4 linked regions of the Homo sapiens genome follow. The protein of the gene in region 1 purifies or fractionates together with the protein of each later gene. This does not show direct contact. Each region holds a gene or a part of one and is shown on either strand. Other genes may lie near its edges.

Region 1 (3,500 bases):
CTGGAACAGGAATCCAGTCATCTATGTTTGAATCATACATCTCTCCACAACTCAGGTCATCTGAGTGGCCATTTGATCCACCTACCACATAGAGCTGGCCCTATGCCAAAAGTGAGAGATGAGAATTTCTAACATCCTGAAGTTACGAGGAAAAAGCTAAATAGGGGTTGCTCCTGCAACATAATGCGCTTACCATGAGTACAGCCATTTGAAATCGGGCTCTTGGTGTTCTCATGGGAGCAAGAAAGGACCAGTGATCTGTATGTGGATTATAGCATTCGACTGTTCGAAGACATTCCTCTCTGTTATAGCCACCTGGTAAAAAATAAAACCATAAAGATTTATGTTTAAAATATTAAACTGGACCACGGTTTCCAGTCCTGTAAGTTTAAGAAATCTGCACAATGAGAAAAAGTATTAAAACTTTTTAAGGATGCCTTAGTTGATCTTTTAACTAAGTGCTTGTAATAGCTGAAAAATCGCATTATCAGTACAAATAAACTGCTTAGTCTTGGCTTGAATATTAGAAAAATTTAGCCATGACATAATTTTTTTAAAAATTAGATACAGACATTGAACTGAAGGTTAGCCATATTCAATAGTATTGTTATTTCCCTATCTTATTGGATTGCCGTGAAAGATGGCATATTAAACCCTCTCTTTGAAAGTTTGCATGTCACAAAAATGCCCATCTACATGCTTAGCCAGTTGAATGCTTCTGTTCTTACCTGCAGCTATGAGTTTGCCATTCATCTCTGCTGTTCCCAGACCAGATCGTGCGTACTGCATAGGAGACATGGGCTTTTCGATTAGCTCATCTTGTTGCATCTCAAAGCTTAAACTCTTACTTAGTTTTGGAGTACTTGTTGGTGAGCTCTGTGGGCTGTTTCTCCCATGAAGAAAAATGACACAGAATATACCATCCAGCACAGCCAGGCACAAGTAAGTGTTATCTGTAAGCACAAGAGTTCCATGTTTAAGATGTAATTATTACTTTTGGTTTGTGTATATGATCCTGAATTGGACTCCAGTCTCCACATCCCAGACTGGAACAATCTGCTCTCGTTTTCCAAATTTAATTGCTTCTGAGTTTTTTCCTCGAGTAGTCAATTTAAGAGGTATTAAATTGGCAACACTCCTTCTTAAAAATAGGTAAGCTGAAAACAATCTGGCAAGTGTCATATACTTACTTGAAGTCTTTTCTGAAGCAACGATTTTCCACTCATGCTTAGGGCTTTGTACTGTAGCATTTGGAGAAGAGAGACATCCAGTTGAACTGCTACTTATCTGCTTATGGCCATTCTCACGTGGTGGCTTTTTCTGCAAAATCAAAAGGTAGCTACAGAAACCTAGCCAAAGACCACATCTGATGTACCTTTGTTCCTGAGCTATTCCACAACACTGAGTATCCTTCACCTATATATGACATTTATAGGACACTAACTTTAACTCAAGCCAACACTTTCCAAATGACACAAATTACTGGCATACTTCCATCTCCACTCAATGATGAGACAACTACGCCTACACAATTAGCCTAGGTAAGAAAAAGCTCAGTTTTAACAATTTGAAAAACATGTTGCAAATCAAGACCTCAGCAGAAGAAAAAACCAATCTATAATTATTTTTATATTAAGTATAGAATCTTTTAAAAGAATGCTATAAATTTAAAATAGTGTGAATTAACAGAGAATACATTTAACCCACTATTTTCATGAAATTGTCAAACCTAACTAAATCATATGTACAGGTATCCTTCATACAATGCCAGCAAAACGTAAGCAGATATAGATTCATCCAGTTTCTCTGAAAGTACTTGACAGGAAAAAAGTGGCAATTACAAGAAACACTTAAAGAATATTTCTTTAGGATTACCTTATAGGTATTATAGAGTGGTTTTCTAGACAAAATTACATCAAAACACAAGAAAATAGTAATCAGAAATGAAACATTACTAAAAACAACCAAATATTCACAAAAGTAGAATATACAGGAATACTAAAGAGGGAGAAATGAACAAAGCTGCCAATTTCCAAATGATTGTAAGAGAACTACTTTACACATGTGTTCTCATGTATGAGTTTTCCTTGATGGCTTCCTTCCAATTACTTTAGCCTTTGCCACTTCCAAAGGATATGATCATATGGAATTGGAAGAGTAAAGACTACTCTGAGAGGAACTGCCAAATGAACAGGTAGCAACTTCAGCACCTGGCCTAGTTTGCTCATCCCACTTGTGCTGGTCCAGATGGCCAGAACACATGGATAGGTAAAATTTCTAATGGAAATTTCTGTTGCTAGTGGAAGCAAAAAGCCATATAACAAGTAATTGAGAAAAAGATTTTGCTAGCTACTTGAAGCTATTAAGAAAAAGCTATATCAAAAGTTAGGCCTGAGTGTGGTTACAACATACGTAGGCTATTTTGAGAAAAGGCAGGGAATGTATCATTATCAATGGTTATGATTAAATTCCACTTAGATGTTTACTATGTACCTAGGTATTACTAGGTACTTTATTTACATCATCTCTTTTAGTCCAGTGAGGGTGATATTATCTACCCATTTTATAGATAAAAATATTGAAACTCAAGAAGATATGCATTGCCCAAGGCAATACAACTAAAATAAAGATTAGGAATTATGAAGATAAACCCCATCCTTTTTATACTATGACAAGTTATGTCATACTATAAAACAGATTTACACTATGACAGGCTGTTTTCCACTGTTACTAAAGTTGTGAATGCATCTTTCATATCACTTTTATACTATGAATATTAAGAATAAAAAATAAGGTTAGACTTATCTAACCTTATCTATTATTATGAATTACAAGGTACATAAAACCTCATCCCAACCTATGGGAAGAAGGGATCCAAATATCACAAATGGATGATGCTTACATTGAGGCTGTACTGAAGTAAAAAAACTGTTCTAATGTACAAACTATAATTAAGAGAAAATGACTGTGAAAGAGAAAGGCCCAAAAGCAATGCCTAATAACAAGCCTAATATAGAAATGCTGATTAAATCCTTTATATGTAAAGAATATATCCCTAAACCTTATTTTACATGACCTCCCAGAGAACTTGACAGTGTTTAGTCCTCCTTCAAACTTTCTTCTCCTACCTTAGGTAGCTTTTACAACATGATTAGATTCTTATTGTCCTCTGACTTTTCTAATGGCTTCTTCTCAACCTCCTTTTTCTATTCCTGAAGTCTAACATGTGTCCCTCGCATCCTCTTCATGATCTCTATTCATGGCATCACATTCTAATGAGTCACACATGTCAGAATCCCACTTATTCTCAAATTCTTTCTTTTCCCTAATCTTGCTAAGCAATCACTAAGGCCTGCTAAGTCAACCTTTGTAAATATAAATGTCTATTTATATATAGACATAAATAAAAAATCTATCCTTTCTCCTTCATGCCCCTAGATTAATCCCTCATCATTTTTTTAAAACCTGAACTACTGCTGGCAATAGTCTATAAACTGGGC
Region 2 (3,500 bases), on another chromosome or scaffold:
CAGGGATATTAATTGGGGAATCCATGGATGGACTCCAGGGATTTACAAACCTTCTGAGATTATATGCAAATTTCTTAGATATGTTGATTTTTCTGAGGTGGGGAACAGGTTTTACCAACTTCTTAGAGGTATACAAGATGATAAAAATGTGAGGAATCACTGGTTTTATAAGTACACAATCCAGAATACTCATTAAATATGGGTATTATAGCATGTAGAATCTAGTCAAAATCCTACTTACTTTTTGAAAGTCTAAATTCTTACTCTCAACCAACAAGTGAGCATCCTAAAATTGAAATTTAAATTAGCCCAGAATTAGAAAACACACGTAAAAATACATCAGCAAACATCAAAAGCAAATTTGTAAGTCTCACCTCATATTACTACTTTTCATCTTTCCAAAATTTTAGACATTCTCTTCATACTTTATTAATCAATGTAATTAACGTTATAAATATATTTATGAATATATAAATAGTATTTATGAACAATCAATGAAAAGCTTCGTTTTAATGGCTGTCATTGAAACAAATTTTTTTTCTGACCAAAAGCATCATATTTAAATAAAATTTTAACATGCTGTTATATGTAAGTTAAGCATTTTATCCAGTTGATTGCTATTTCACACACACCTTAATCAATTCAGGAACATGGTAGCTTTCCAGGAGATTACGAATGCCTCTGTAGATATTTTCAGGAATTTTTACATTCTGTGAGAAGGGAAGGGAGGGGGGAAAAAACCTGAGTTTTAGACAACCAAACTGAAATTTGTCTAACAGAAATTATCTCAGACATAATTTAAGTCTCCAACTCTTGCATGTCATTGAGAAGTGGTCTGGTTGTACTTAAAAGCAGCAATTTCAAATCTAATAGATACATGTCAGGCAGGACAGGCATTATATAGCAAAAAACGAAATGGTACCATCTTCTCCAGCTGATGGAAGTATTGTCTCAAATGCTCCTCCTTGGCCTGTACCTCTGAGTCACTCATGCTGTCAATCAAGTTATAAAGAAAATAGCCAACAGCTTCTGTGGAAAAAAACAAGAGAAAGCATTCCACTAAAATTACCGAGACTGTCATGTTATCAAGATTAATTTATAAGAAATCATTTTGGTGTGAGATGTCACCCTGATGAGAGGCTCTGAAATGGCAACAATGATCACTGAGGCATAGAGATTATGTGGTTTGGGAGCACATATCTAACTGGTGAGTGAAAGGAATATTAATTATTTTCAGACCGAGTGACAGCTTTTCAGTACTGAATCTTACTTCAATCTATTTTTTTTCCACCACTCTGTGACAGAAGTGGTCCTGCCCAAGGCCTTACCCCTTTCCTGTCCAAATCACACGTAATAAGAATAAATAAATGTCTTGTACACATTTCTATACTGTTTTTTTTTTGTGGACAATATTTAGGGAAGCACATAAAATTAGAAAGGATTGTTAAATGTTGAGTAAAGAAAGTTAAACAATTTTAATAAGCAGATACAGTAATCCTGTGGAGAGCTGCCTATTAGCCAATGAAAAACCAAGATTAACAAAGATGTTTTGTAACAACAGTAATTTTCCTTTGCATTCAAGCATAAAATGTATAGGGCCATGTTACAGTAATACCTAGGATAGAAATGTAAACTTTCAAGAGGGGTACCATCTTACAGAAAACTATATAGTCTAGCTTCATTATATGAAAAATGAAAATCATTAAATGTCAAAACAATGTATTTGGGGCAATAAATTACATTTAAGCGGAAATCCACAAGAACCTTCGCTACATTTTATGTTTAAAATTAACTACACCTGCAAAACATTAAAAGCACATAAATACTAAGAATCACTGATTTTTAAGCCTATTTCCATAGATGTTAGAAGAAACATTTCCCCAATATCTGAAAAGAAAAAGCCTCCCAACCCTGTCTTTAGAAAAAATAATTGTAACAAAATCAAACACTTTAGATCTCAAAATGTTGTAATCAATATAAAGATTTATAACCAAATGTTTTCAAATTCCACTTTAAAAAATAAAGTATTTACTGCTGTAATCCTCCTAACCCATCATTACACAGAAAAATGGATTTGTGGATAAGTTACAATCATCGAAATTGAAACGCTACCCGTCGGTCCTCGAGGCTCCTGGCAATAACGTCCATCCTTGTACAACAATTCTGTTATCTGGTAAGACAGAAAATTCGTGCATTGCAGCAAGAGAAGCAAACAAGAACAAACACAATCTGAAATTGAATTCTTGAAATAATAAAACCTCTCCCCAGTAAGGTACTATTCTATTTCACAGTAATTCAAAACCACCCCCACCCGCCAAGGAGATTGTTTTGTTTTTAAATAATAGGTTTGTCTTTTAAAAACAAAAACAAATCCATGTTGAAGGAAAACTGCAATGTTTTGTGAAATGTCACACAGAAAGACTCTAAACTGATTTATAAATTGATATATAAACATCACTCTGAATGAACTGTTATAAATAGAAAAGAGCTTATAGGAATTATTGACCAATATTATTCCTCATTATATTGCTTTTGGTCTTGTTGACACTGAACTGGTTTCCTCATTTTATATTAAGTTTTACTGAAATATAAAGTAAAATATCCTGAACTGCTAAATAACTTACATTTTTTAGATATTTAATAACAACTTCCATTCATCTTAATGAGACTAAAACAAAAGGGGTCTAAAGATTAAAGTGTCTATTCTCATGGATTCTTTTTTTTTTAATTTCCAACTTTTATTTTAAGTTCAGGGGTACATGTGCAGGATGTGCAGGTTTGTTACATCGGTAAACGTGTGCCATGGTGGTCGGCTGCACAGATCATCCCATCACCCAGGTATTAAGCCCAGCATCCATTAGCTATTCTTCCTGATCCTCTCCCTCCTCCCATTGGATTCTTATCAATTGGATTCACAAACACTAAAAGACACACATAACTATTATTTTTCAACATTAACTCTGCCAGCAAAATTTTAGTAGAAAACCAAATATAGGTTTCATGATAAAAATTATTACATAACCTATGGTATTGGCTTGTAACGTTAAAAGCACCTTATGATTTGCAATATTAGAGGGACTTACCTCGCTCCAAAGATTTATATTCATAGACCTGCAGAGGGCAGCAAAGGATCGAAAATAAACCCAGGTTTATTTTCAAGTATATGCATACTTGTAATATGTACAGATCAAAGTATTAAAATTAATAAGTAAATAAATGTTTGCTGTATCAGGATGAATTTTCAGGACAAAGGTAATTTAGAAAGGCTGACACTCACCCACCTCAAATATTCAAAATAGGCCAGGCCTGGTGGCTCACATCTGCAATCCCAGCACTTTGGGAGGCCAAGGCAGGTGGATCACCTGAGGTCAGGAGTTTGAGACCAGCCTGGCCAACATGGTGAAATCCCGTCTCCACTAGAAGTAGAAAAATTAGCCGGGAGTGTTGGTGTATGCCTGTAATCCAGGCTACTCGGGAGGCTGAGGCAGGAGAATTGCCTG
Region 3 (3,500 bases), on another chromosome or scaffold:
GGTAGAAATGCTCTGCAGGCCTCTGACAGCCTCAGTTCTCCCTGGAGGAAACTCTCCTCGTACTGTGGGGTACGTGCAGGGGCTGAACTCCTTTTTCCAAATTTTGCACCTTCCCCTTATCATGACCCGCCCCCAAGCGTTGACAGCCCAGTGGTCTCTGGTTAGAGCACGCCTTTGCCAGGGCCACTTGTAGGGCACAAGAATTCCTTCCCAAGCACCAGGCAACCAACCCTCTGTGGCTAGAGCTCAACATCCCCTGAGGGTCAGGGGCCAAACCACTGAGGACTGAGAACTCAAGGGACAGGGAAGGGCCCTGGGACACCAGCAACGGCAGGCTCACCAAACTTGACCACACACGTGGGGCTCTTTCCACAGTGATACTTTTATTTACATAAAAAATAAGCCTTTCTGGGCCAGGCATGGTGGCTCAAGCACGGAATCCCAGGACTTTGAGAGGCCAAGGTGGGAGGATCACTTGAGGCCAGGAGTTTGAGACCAGCCTGGGCAACACAGAGAGACCCCATCTCTAGGAAAAAAACAAAAACCTCAGAAAACAAAAACTAAACTAAACTAAAATAAAATAAAGCCTTCTGAAAATGTACAGATGCTGTAATAAGGATTAAGGTATATGACAAAACAGTTCCTAAAGCTATGTTTCCCTCTGGAACTTTCTCACATTAAAAAAGTAAAGGTCTGAGGGTCAGTTTGGGAATATCTGAGTAGCATACATTTGTGAAGCCGGCATCTGTGAAGCTGCGTGATGCATGCAGAGAAGCATTACCTGCTCCAAAATAAAACTGGGCTTCAGGCTATGGCCCTATCAGCCAAGCGCAGCCCTGCAGGCCCCAGCCGGGGTAAACGAGTGCCTTCAAGCGCTGTTAAACAGATTCACCCTCTCGACAGACACGAGAGGACACCAGCTGCCATGGGGCAGCTCACTAGCCCAACGGTGATTTTCTTTATTTTTGAGAGAGGGTCTCACTATGTTGTCCAGTATGGTCTCAAACTCTTAGGCTCAAGTGATCCTCCTGCCTCCTGAGCAGCTGGACCACAGGTGTGTGCCACCATGCTGGCTAATTTTTACATTTTTTGTAAAACCATTTTCAGGATGGAAAGACTAAGAAGAAAGGGTCTATGTTGTCCAGGCTGGTCTCAAATTCCTGGGCTCAAGTGATCCTCCTGCTTTGGCCTCCCAAAGCGTTGGGATTACAGGCGTGAGTCAATGCGCCCGGCCTTCTTAGGAATTACTCTTGTTGGTAGTTTTTCTCCTGCTGATTTCTCTGGTCTTGACAGTCATAAATCTTCTCCTCTCTTCCTCCAACCCAATTCTTTTCCATCCCTTATCTCTGGGCTTTTCTGGACGTGATAGGGACTGACTGCAAACTCACTGCAGTCTGGGTCTTTCTTCCTCCTCTTCTCTCAGCCTCCTGAGCGAATCTTTCCCTCCAGACTCTCCCGCCCTCCCCACTTCCTTCCATCACTTTGTCTTAGTGGTTGCCCTGCCACTCACTTTTCCTGCTCGACCAGAAATGTCCACTTCTCCGGTTTCCCCTTTCTTTTCTTGTCCTCATTACTGGGACCAGAGTCCCATGTCTCCTCCAACCTTCCCTGTTTTCCTTCCAGGCTAAGGAGCAGTTCACCCAACCCCACCGCCCATATAGCCCGCCCCATCAAGAGCAGGACCGACTGTATGATGGGATTTCTAGAGCTGGATTTTAAAATTCAGCTCCATTCCGTCCAGAGAAGCTTCCCCAGCCTTGTCTTCAAGCCAGAAACCTCAAGGAAGGCAGGCCAGCTTTGGAATTTGAGCCAGGCTGAGAATGCTGGGTAACTCAGCCATGAGAATAACACCTCTCACAGCAGCATGTGTGGCACTGGGCAGCGCCCACCCAGCTTCACTGTTAAAACAACGATGGGGCCGGGCTCACGCCTATAATCCCAGTACGTTGGGAGGCTGAGGTAGGAGGATCACTTGAGGCTAGGAGTTTAAGACCAGCCTGGGCAACACAGTGAGACCCCATCTCAACAAAAAATAAAAACATTAAAAATTAAAAAAAAAAGGGAAATCTATCCTTGTCATACCTGAGATAAGCCCTCGATGCCACTCCTTGAGGTTTTGACAAAAACAAAACAGCCCTGACACTGAGACCTCTGCTGTTTCTGAGGCGACAGCACACCACATCCTGGAGTCCAAGGCCCTGACTCTCATCGCCTCTATCCCACTTCATCCTGGCAGCCAGAACCATTTTCAGGATGGAAAGACTAAGGAATCCGGGAAAACTCCTCCCCTCTAGGACAGGGCTTATAAACAGAATGCATACATACAACATTCACCAATACAAATGACTCCACGAGGCAGGTGTTTGAAAAAGGTTTGCCTTAGGGCTGCTGATCAAATGTCTAAGAATGCTGGAAGATCTACTCTCACCCGAGTATACCTAAGGCAGCATCTTTTCTCCCACAGATATGAGACGTTCATTATTCATTTATTTTTTAGAGAAAGGGTCTCACTCTATCACCCAGGCTGCAGTGCAGTGGTGCAATCATAGTTCACTGCAGCCTCCACCTCCTGGGTTCAAGCGATCCTCCCACCATGGCCTCCTGAGTAGCTGGGACTAAAGGCCAGCATCACCATGCCCAGTTTTTTTCATTACTTTTTGTAGGAACAGGGGTCTCACTTTGTTGCCCAGGCTGCTCAAACTCGGGGCTTCAAGTAATCCTCCTAACTCGGCCTCCTGAGAGCTGAGATTACAGGTGTGTGCTCCCCCACACTGGGCATGAAACCATCTTTAAAGCTCGCGGCTCCGTTCTGCTGTTACTAGGAACTGCGTGCTGAAGCTCTAAGTGCTCACGCTCACAGCAACTGGTGGGGACTGGTGCTGTCTTTTTTTTTTTTTTAATAAAAACAAAAAAAGACAGGTTCTGGCCCTGTGGCCCAGGCTGGAGTGCAGTGGTATGATCACAACTCACTGCAGCCTCAACCTCCTGGGCTCAAGCAATCCTCCCACCTCAGCTTCCTGAGTTGCTGCAACTACAGGAGCGCACCGCCATGCCTGGCCAGCTTTGTATTTTTTGTAGAGATGGGGTCTCGCAATATTGCCCAGGTTGGTCTTGAACTCCTGGGCTCAATCGATCTTCCTCTCTCAGCCACCCAAGGTGCTAGGATTACAGGGATAAGTCACTGTGTCCAGCCTGGAGTCACTGTTTTGATTCCCATGAAAGACAACGCCCAATCGGAAGTAAACGGCTTTCCTACAGACACCTTTCTGATGGAGGTTGTGGTGTGGAGCTGCAGAATGATTCTGAAACGCGCTCTCTGACGGGATCAGTCTATCATCCCCGTGGTTTCTATTCTGTGGCTGTGCCGTCGCCTGCCAGCGGGGCTAAGTATGGCTTTCAGGAGCGCGCACCCTCCCGACCCACCTGAATCTCTGCGCCTGGTGGTGAACGGGGCCTCCGAACCGTCGCGCTGGCGAGTGGTACAGCTGCGAGAGGAGTGC
Region 4 (3,500 bases), on another chromosome or scaffold:
TGTTTGTTTGTTTTAAGTATTCTTTGTAAGCTCTTGCTTACCACAGTTATGGGAACAAAGCACTAAGGACTGATTGGCAAAGTAGCAAAAGCAGTCAGCCTTATTGTAAAATCATGTCAACGTCTAGTTTTTAAACTTTTTTTTTTTTTTTTTTTTTGAGACAGAGTCTTGCTCTGTTGCCCATGCTGGAGTGCAATGGCGTGATCTCAGCTAACTGCAAGCTCCGCTTCCCGAGTTCATGCCATTCTCCTGCCTCAGCCTCCCAAGTAGCTGGGACTACAGGCACCCGCCACCATGCCCGGCTAATTTTTTTTGTACTTTTAGTAGGGACGGGGTTTCACCGTGTTAGCCAGGATGGTCTCGATCTCCTGACCTTGTGATCCGCCCACCTCAGCCTCCCAAAGTGCTGGGATTACAGGCGTGAGCCACCACACCCAGCCTAATTTTTATACTTTTATAGCTGCTGTCAGCATATTCCTTATGCTAATCACAAATAAAACTTGGACCCTTTATTTGTATTTGATATTCCTTATTATGGAAATATAGTTGGGAATTAGTGCCATATACAGATGCTATAGAAACACACTACAATGTAAGCCAAAAATAAATGTTTATAGAATGTACTGATAAACAAAGCTGCTAAAAAGATAAGGAAATACGGTCCCTCCAAATAGTGTTACATACTGTGTTTGCCTCATATTAGAGAGGTACTTTACAAAACTTTATAGTTTTACAATATATCTGTATTTATGAACCTTATAGGAATCTCATCACAATCCCATAATGTAGACTAGGCAAGAATTATTAACACTTTACTCACTGCGAAATCTCAACTTCAGAATGAGTGTCTGACTTGCTTTAATATATGATGAATAAGTGGTAGAGCCCAGAATAAAAATATGGGTTTCCCAATTCCTGGTGATTCTACTATTTTTAACATATACATACTTACACTTCCTCAAACAGAGTTGTAGCTCAGCCCTCTTTATATCTAGTGTAATGACAAAATGAGTACCATCATTATGCCCAAGTGTTACCTACCCCCACTGACCACTGATGACCACGTTCCCCCCGAGGGACTGGTCCTTGCTACTGGAGGAGTAGCTGCTTCACTGGGTGGGTTGTGGGATACAAATTCTAGGCCACTGGATATGGAACCCCTCCCAGCAGAAACTCTGTGATTTCGAGGATGTCGCTGGGCCTTTGGGGACATCCTTGGAGGCCCTAAGGAAGAAACAGTGAACATCACATAAATTCCATGATATTCATCAGTACTACTTTTCTGCTAAATACACCCATTCACACACACATGCACACACACTCACTCACTCTACAGTTTTTCCTTGGTTAAAAATAGAAAAAAAAAAAACACCATACATATTTTTTTGGCCATACTAATTCTTTCAGAATTATTTTGTGGAATGCCACAAAGTTTTATAAATAAATTTTATTATTTCCCTTTATTTTTAAAGAAAGGGAGGGATGAAGTTGGTGGTAAGAAATCAACAATAAGATGTCAACTCTTAAAAGAACTGTAGCAATCTGTTTCAACTATGTCTTATTTGTAAAGAAATATGTTACTAGAAATTATGACTACATGATAAAATATTTTTAACTTTCCATATATTTTACCTTTCCCTGACCCGAATTTTCTACATTACTTCTAAAATTAGAAAAAAAAAATTTAAACAGAAGACTATTAATCCCTATACACCCCGATACCACTAAAACATATGTACATACCCTTCTTAAATTTCTCTAAAATTTTAGTTTATTTATCTCTTCTATCATGATCATCAATTTTAAAACTCGGCTTAAAACAGTAAGCAGTAACCTGTAAGCAGTTTCTTAGGCTTAGCAGGCTGTGAGCTGAAAATTCTATTAAAGGGATGACTTGTATTAGTCTATTAATAGATGACCAAAATAACTGACATTTGGGGGAGAAATCAGCACTATATGAATTGTCAAAATTCTACATTATTGATTCTGCCATGCCACTAGTGACTACTCTTTCTAAATCAGTCTACTGTGCATTAGACCAATCTATCAGGTAAAAGAGTGGACAGAATGGCCCTCATCAGAGAAGCCTACTGGTGTTAACACCAAGCGAAAACTTCCCTAATGTCAAAGCCAAATCTCCTCACTCTCTCACCCGGCTGCCAAACTCTTTAGAACTTCAAATTAATATATGTTGCCAATAGAATTATTATTTTATTTTTATTTTTATAAGACAGAGTCTGTCTCTGTCGCCCAGGCTGGAGTGCAGTGGTACGATCTCAACTCACTGCAACCTCTGCCTCCCAGGTTCAAGTGATTCTCCTGCCTCAGCCTCCCAAGTAGCTGGGTATTTTTAGTAGAGACGAGGTTTCACCATGTTGGCCAGGCTGGTCTCAAACTCCTGACCTCAAGTGATCCACCTGCCTCAGCCTCCCAAAGTGCTGAGATTACAGGCGTTAGCCACCATGCCTGGCTTCCAACAGGAATTTAAACACGAACATGATCTTTAGAAGAATGCTAATGTTATACACTATAATTTTCAAATGGAAATATTCAACATCTCTGAATGACACAGAAAGTATATTTCTGTGTGAAGTTAATACATGAGCAGTCCTTAAATCTTAATGTAATAAAGATGTTCACAGTCATTAATGATCATGTTTTATTTAATATATTCTCATTAAATAAACATCGCTTACTCAAATGATGGACTACAAGAAAAATATCAACAGAATTTTGCATTTAGTGACCACTATTAAGGCCCTTTTGAGCAAAGAAGTCACCTTGAAAATCAGTGGAACTTGCTCTTCAAGGTTAGATGCTTCAGTCAAAGTCATATGACCTGCCTGCTTAGATGGTAACAATTTATTTAAAAGTAGCCAATACAGTTTTCTCCAGGGAAGCAGGAGAAACACATTTTGTGCGGAAAACTTTATTAGTCCCAACATAAGCAATATTAACTAATTTTAATGAACAAATCAGATTAAAATTTTAACACAAATATTCAGAACTAGTATCAAAAGGACATTATGATTCAGAAAACAGGTTTTTAATATATGGGTGGCATTTAAATTAGAATGTTACCTTTCTACAACATATCCCTGTATTTGATATGTGGCAATGATGGATTTAGCGCCAAATACTGAATAAGAATTACAAGATTTTATTCTTATTTTTGACGAGGAAAGAAATAGCTAAATATTCAAATTCATATGTCGTTTTTATCAATTTTATCTCAGATCAAGGACTTCTTCCAGATTAAAGCAGCCTTTCACTATGTAAGATTGCAAAGCTAACTTTAAAAAAATTACTCAGTTAAATTTAGAATTCTTCTGGCATTCTAAAAATCAACTACTTTAATCTAAGGGCAGACACGCAAAGTCAGCTACATGGGCTGTCGCTCTCAAAAAAGACCCAGAAAACACCATCCCTGCTTATGGCCAATAGGAAGGTTCACTAGGACCTTGGCCAAAGAGCTGTAAAATGAACCTAAGTTCAAGACT

What was found. Proteins that work in one complex are often made in the same cells at the same time.
Region 2: the proteins of IVNS1ABP (region 1) and LRPPRC purify together in Homo sapiens (affinity purification with mass spectrometry, with the first as the bait; one large-scale study listed by BioGRID). This does not show direct contact.
Region 3: the proteins of IVNS1ABP (region 1) and ELAVL1 purify together in Homo sapiens (affinity purification with mass spectrometry, with the first as the bait; one large-scale study listed by BioGRID). This does not show direct contact.
Region 4: the proteins of IVNS1ABP (region 1) and ATXN2 purify together in Homo sapiens (affinity purification with western blotting, with the first as the bait; one study listed by BioGRID). This does not show direct contact.

Annotation. Positions count from the first base shown.
Region 1 is NC_000001.11:185,300,244-185,303,743, forward strand, and holds part of IVNS1ABP (influenza virus NS1A-binding protein), read right to left. Parts: intron 1,321-3,500; coding exon 1,191-1,320; intron 954-1,190; coding exon 729-953; intron 316-728; coding exon 194-315; intron 101-193; coding exon 1-100. UniProt on the Homo sapiens protein: Involved in many cell functions, including pre-mRNA splicing, the aryl hydrocarbon receptor (AHR) pathway, F-actin organization and protein ubiquitination.
Region 2 is NC_000002.12:43,947,490-43,950,989, forward strand, and holds part of LRPPRC (leucine-rich PPR motif-containing protein, mitochondrial precursor), read right to left. Parts: intron 3,112-3,500; coding exon 3,084-3,111; intron 2,171-3,083; coding exon 2,113-2,170; intron 1,030-2,112; coding exon 923-1,029; intron 711-922; coding exon 633-710; intron 287-632; coding exon 242-286; intron 1-241. UniProt on the Homo sapiens protein: May play a role in RNA metabolism in both nuclei and mitochondria. In the nucleus binds to HNRPA1-associated poly(A) mRNAs and is part of nmRNP complexes at late stages of mRNA maturation which are possibly associated with nuclear mRNA export.
Region 3 is NC_000019.10:7,964,142-7,967,641, forward strand, and holds part of ELAVL1 (ELAV-like protein 1), read right to left. Parts: coding exon 3,424-3,500; intron 1-3,423. UniProt on the Homo sapiens protein: RNA-binding protein that binds to the 3'-UTR region of mRNAs and increases their stability.
Region 4 is NC_000012.12:111,512,316-111,515,815, forward strand, and holds part of ATXN2 (ataxin-2), read right to left. Parts: intron 1,225-3,500; coding exon 1,042-1,224; intron 1-1,041. UniProt on the Homo sapiens protein: Involved in EGFR trafficking, acting as negative regulator of endocytic EGFR internalization at the plasma membrane.